Linked DNA regions of Homo sapiens: region 2 is linked to region 1. The links come from fine-mapping of genetic effects on plasma protein levels. A gene starts in region 1. The other region holds a variant in brackets. All regions are shown on one strand. Distances are from middle to middle.

Region 1 (2,915 bases):
GTCCTAAGAATTTTACTTTTTTATGACTTAATCCTTATGACAGCCCTTAATATGTTATCGTTATTACTCCATTTTACAAATGAACAAACTGAGTCAAGGCTGTACAACTAATAAATGGCAGAGTCATGATTTCGTCCAGGAAAACTGATGCCAGAGCCCTAACATGTTACACAATACATTGTGATACTTGTCACTGAAAGTATTTTGTTAAATACAGACGGAGTTAAATCATTCACTATTAGAAACAGAGGAAACTGAGATCACTGAATTCCATCATGAAATAGATACTGATGCTGAGCCAAGGATTGGAAGTGACTCAGTTCAGGTGGTTTACATAACCGTAGGCTTACCTACACGGTGTTCCTGACTCCCAGCTGGAATCTTTTAACCAAAGGCCCCACCCTCATGCAAAGTGCACCTTTTCTTTACACGTGCGCTCTCCCCTTTGGAGGTCTTGCTTTGGAAAAACCACCCCAGGTAGCAACTTGTTTCAAAGCAGATATATGCCAGGTACCACTTAAAGCCAGGTGGATCTTATCTGTTGAAATAGATCAAGAACACATGAAAGGGGACTGGGGACCCCCTACTTACACTTCAGACTTCAGCACAAACTTTCTGTCCTCAGAGAAGGCTTCTCTGGCCTCTCCAAGGTCAAGTCTGTCTACCTAAGCTCTCCTTTATTTAGCATGGTCACTTGTAATTACATATATTTTGTATGTTAATATCTGGTTAATGGTCACCTCACTTGTTACCCTTTAAGTTCATTGAGGATAGAATCCCTGTCAATTTTTGTTCCTTATATTTGCAGTGCCTCACATAGTTCCTGGCACACAATGGGTATTCAAAAAATATTTGTTAAAATCAGGAAAGAATGAACAAACAGATGAATGAATAAATGCACGACTGAAGTACCATGACAAATCATTCCTGTGGAACGCATAAGGTTAGATGCAACTCCTTTATGGTGTGATCTGAGGGGGCCCTTAAGGGCTTAATCTGCACGCTCACACACACCACTGATTAGAAATCCCCATCAGGAAAATTGTACAATCATCTATTTGGCGAGGGCTTTGGGACACTGAATGGGGGAAAAGAAACACAAAAGGTGAGCAAGCAGTTTTCAAAGGATGCTTTCAACTCCCTGGCCAGTCCGCGTGTATGTTTTCGTCTACAAAGTGTTTCCAATTACTGTGGCACTCTCGGTATCTGGATCCATCTCCAGTGAATTCCTCTGCAGCTCCTGCCAGACATATGGGATCAATCAGGGCTTCGGCGCTGGTGCGCTTGCTGCGGGAATGTTGACAGCCTGACAGACGCGGGGTTCTGGTGTCATGGAATCTCCGAGCCTTTGGCTTGATCCCGGGAGGAGAATGAGAGGGGGAGGAGGGAGATAGAGTCACAGATACAGAAAGTAGACAGGAGCGGGGAGAGGGAGAGAGGGAGAGAAGGAGGGAAGCGGGAGATTTTTCTTGACTGCCCCCTTTCCTTCAAACATTTTATAGGCTTCAGGGAGAGAGAGGAGGAGGAGAGAGGGAAGAAAAAAAGAGGAGAGCGAGAGGGGTAGAGAGCGCGCGCCGTTCCCTCCGGAGTTCCCGAGCTGCTGAGGAGTCTGGATTGTGTCTGTCCCCAGTGTCAGATGAAAGGGCGCTGAGGCTCTTGGCCGCTGCCCCGCGCCCAGCTCCGCGCACGCCCCTCTGCGAGTCCGGCCGCCCAGCGCCTCTTCCCGCCCGAGCCGCCGCCTGCGCTCCGGGGCAGCCGCTCTGTCTCCAGCGCGATGTGGCCTCGCCTGGCCTTTTGTTGCTGGGGTCTGGCGCTCGTTTCGGGCTGGGCGACCTTTCAGCAGATGTCCCCGTCGCGCAATTTCAGCTTCCGCCTCTTCCCCGAGACCGCGCCCGGGGCCCCCGGGAGTATCCCCGCGCCGCCCGCTCCTGGCGACGAAGCGGCGGGGAGCAGAGTGGAGCGGCTGGGCCAGGCGTTCCGGCGACGCGTGCGGCTGCTGCGGGAGCTCAGCGAGCGCCTGGAGCTTGTCTTCCTGGTGGATGATTCGTCCAGCGTGGGCGAAGTCAACTTCCGCAGCGAGCTCATGTTCGTCCGCAAGCTGCTGTCCGACTTCCCCGTGGTGCCCACGGCCACGCGCGTGGCCATCGTGACCTTCTCGTCCAAGAACTACGTGGTGCCGCGCGTCGATTACATCTCCACCCGCCGCGCGCGCCAGCACAAGTGCGCGCTGCTCCTCCAAGAGATCCCTGCCATCTCCTACCGAGGTGGCGGCACCTACACCAAGGGCGCCTTCCAGCAAGCCGCGGTAAGGCGCCCGCCCCTCCCGACCCGGGCCCTAGTCCCCGGGCCCTTCGACCCACCGCTGCCTGCCCGTCTCTATCCCGGGGTTCAGTCCTGGGCAAGGCATAACCACCCCAAGTCAAGCGTCCCCATCCACAAAACCAGAGTCATCGCTACCCGCCTATTATTGTTGTGGAGGTTCCAATGGGATAATGGATTTTAAAACGCTTAGAGGGATGTCAGGCTCCTTAGATAGTCGGCTTCGAGGACCCTGTTAGGAAGGGATCCTTGAAACGCTAATCACATTCACGTTTGTAGGAGCAGACGGTATCCAAGCTGAAACAGGTGAGCATGGTTTACAAAGTGTTTCTAAAGGTAGGACATGGAGTGATATAAACCTAACCCCAATTCTTTTTAAAGTTATGTTATGCTTTCAATGTAAGATTCGTGCCCTTCCTATTTTTGCTCCAATCCTTTATTAGATTTTTAATATCTGGAAGAGGAAGTCAGTTTGGGATGTCGGACTTTTGTAAAGTGTGTCTGTTTTTCTGATTACAAATTAATCCATATTCAGTGGGGGAAAAAGAAACATATAGAAATATCTAACACATAATAGCAAGCCAGTGTTTGTGGAC
Region 2 (2,915 bases), 91 kb after region 1:
TAAAGGTTCCAGCATAAAGAAAAGATAAATATTTAAGGTGATGGATATCTGAAGTGCACTGATTTGATCTTTATAAACTATATGAATGTGTGAAATTATTACATGTACCTTGAAACTATGTACATCTATTATGCATCAGTAAAGAAAAGAAGAAGAAAAAATATGTTTAAATTATCTGTTCAAAACTGTTTACAATGGAAATGTTTGGGTCAAACTAATGTCCTTCAACAGATTTTTCTTAAATTATCTTATATTTATTCTACAGAACATTATGGAAACATTTAAGAGTCATCTTAAGTTTTAAGGACTACATAAGAGCATAAAAGATGTTTGAAGGTATTATGTTTAAAAAACAAGGAGAAATATTTCATATGTGTGCCAATTCTATAAATCATGTAAATAGAATAATCTGGAAAGAAATATGCCAGAAAGCTGTGCCTTTTTCCTTTCCTCTTTGTGAAATATTGTATCATTGTTAACATTACTAATAATATATAAATCAGAAAAGAATAAACGCACTTTTGACATTAACTTTCAAAATATTTGTGTATCTCCAATAGGTGTCAGTCCACGTTCATCCAGCTTTCACCCCACCTTACCTTTTCCCAATTGGAGATGTTGCTATCGTATACACGGCAACTGACCTATCCGGCAACCAGGCCAGCTGCATTTTCCATATCAAGGTTATTGGTAAGTGATATAGTTTGGTTGTTTCCCCATCCAAACGTCATCTTGAACTGTGGCTCCCATAATTCCCATGTGTCGTGGGAAGGACCCAGTGGGAGGTAATTGAATCATAGAGGTGGGTCTTTCCCATGCTGTCCTCATGATAGTGAATAAGTCTCAGAAGATCTGATGGTTTTATAAGGGGGAGTTCCCCTGCACGTGCTCTCTTGCCTGCCACCATGTAAGACGTGGCTTTGCTCCTTCTTTGCTTTCTGCCGTGATTGTGAGGCCTCCCCAGCCATATGGAACTGTGAGTCCATTAAAACTCTTTCCTTTATAAATTACTCAGTCTCGGGTATGTCTTTATTAGCAGCATGAGAACAGACTAATACAGTAAGTCTTCATTGAATCATTTGGGCAGGTTTATGAAAGCAATCCAGAACCCCAGAGACCACTTCTCCTTTATGATCAACAACTCCCTTGTCACTGATTCTTCCAACTGGCATTGAAACTTGCTCAAAGCACTCCCTGTTTGAAACCTACAAACCCTTTAACTATTACCACTTCTCTTTGATTTCTTCCCATATGAGCCCACATGAAAGTTCCCAATGCTTGCCATGTCTTTCTGCTTAATTGCCATTTATTCGGAGTCACCCAAATCTGGCTTCTATCCCCTTCACTCGTATAAACTACTGTCATCAAAGTCACCAATGATCTCTGGTGTTACTCTGCATACTTTTTGGTCCTAATTTTACATAATCTTTCCTCATATTTTACATTTATTTAATTTTTTTCAGAGACAGGGTCTCACTCCGTCCTCCAGACTGGAGTGAGTGCTGTGCCACAATCATAGCTCACTGCAGCCTCAAATTCCTAGGCTCAAGCAATCCTCCTGCCTTAGCCTTCCAAATAGCTGGGACTACAGGCATGTGCCACCACACCCAGCTAATTTGTTTTGTTTTTTTTTAATTTTTTTGTAGAGACAAGGTCTCACTGTGTTCCCAGACTGATCTCAAA[C/T]TCCTGGCCTCAAGTGATCCTCTCACGTTGGCCTCCCAAAATGCTGGGATTATAGGTGTGAGCCACCACACCCAGCTACGTTTTACATTATTAACCACACACTTGTTACCAAAACTTTTTCCTTCCCTTAGCTTCCTTGATGTTAGTCTTTCCCGTCTTTTTTTTCCCTCCATTATTTTTACCTAACCTTCTTTATCTCTTTTGTAGGCTTCTCTTCCTCAGGCTAATTCTCAAATGCTGATCTTCTCTAGGGTTTCAGCCCTGGTCTTCTCTATCTCTCTCTGTAGTTTTCCTGAGTGATTTTGTTAACCAACAACTCCCATATTCCTATTTCCAGTTCGAATCTCTTTTCTGGAATCCAAACTGGACTCTGAAAGCCTCCTGGACTTTCCCCATATTAATGTCTCACAGGCATTTCAAACTCACCTAAACCTAAATTATTTCCTAGCTCAGAAAAGGACACAGCCAACCACCTAGCTACCAAGCGAAAACCTTGGAATCATGCTTGACTCCCTGCCCTCTCACCAATATCCAAGAAGGTATCAGGTGCTGTTGGTTTCACCTACTTGATATCGCTGAAGTTTGTCCCATTCTCTCCATCCTCAGAACCACCGCTGCGGATCAGTCCTTTGAAATCTTTTGAGCCTGGTTTACCGTATCATCTCTCAATTGGTCTTCTGCTCATTACCAAAATAAAATACATGGAGAGGTAGGCTACATAGCAATCTGTAGTGGACAAGAGCATGGACTCTGAACCCAAGCTGGTTGGGTTCATGTTCATCTCCACCGCTTAAAGTCAAGGGGACCAGTTCCTGCTCTATACCTCAATTTCTTTATCCAAAAGTAAAAGTAATGAATGTATTACCTCATTGTGAGATTTTTAATTTGTGATAATATATAAACCACTTGATCTAGTGCCTACCATACTTTAAGCTCTGTGTGAAAGCTAGATGACAACATACTGACATTTTGCAACATTTATCTCAGGTCTATTTTTCATATGTTTATTTTAAAATTCACTATGTTAAATTCATTTTGTTTTAAAAATGTTACATAACTTATTGAAATAACTAACATATATTAAACTGGTTCCTTACCCTATACATTACAGGTTTTGGTAAAAGTAGATGAAAGAAATCCAGTAAAAATCAGACTATTTCACAATGCTTAGTTTTTAAAAATTCCTTTTTCAGTGTTGTTTTAAACATGAGCTTTACCATTTGCATGAAAAA

The links. A credible set is the group of variants that fine-mapping cannot tell apart. PIP is the chance, under the fine-mapping model, that this variant and not a neighbour inherited with it causes the effect. Protein levels are from the aptamer-based SomaScan assay of Sun 2018.
Region 2: its variant is the best candidate, but not a certain one, in a credible set for the plasma level of the SVEP1 protein (Sun 2018, PIP 0.61).

The regions. Positions count from the first base shown.
Region 1 is chr9:110,578,403-110,581,317 of GRCh38, reverse strand. SVEP1 (sushi, von Willebrand factor type A, EGF and pentraxin domain containing 1) reads left to right here and starts at 1,577. Exons shown (of 48, transcript NM_153366.4): 1 at 1,577-2,305. The coding sequence starts at 1,775. RefSeq lists enhancers at 1,709-2,209, 2,210-2,710.
Region 2 is chr9:110,487,425-110,490,339 of GRCh38, reverse strand. SVEP1 (sushi, von Willebrand factor type A, EGF and pentraxin domain containing 1) reads left to right here. Exons shown (of 48, transcript NM_153366.4): 9 at 561-690. Among named protein-coding and RNA genes, the nearest start is that of SVEP1, 91 kb to the left of the region's middle. The variant C/T (reference allele first, on the strand shown) is at 1,684.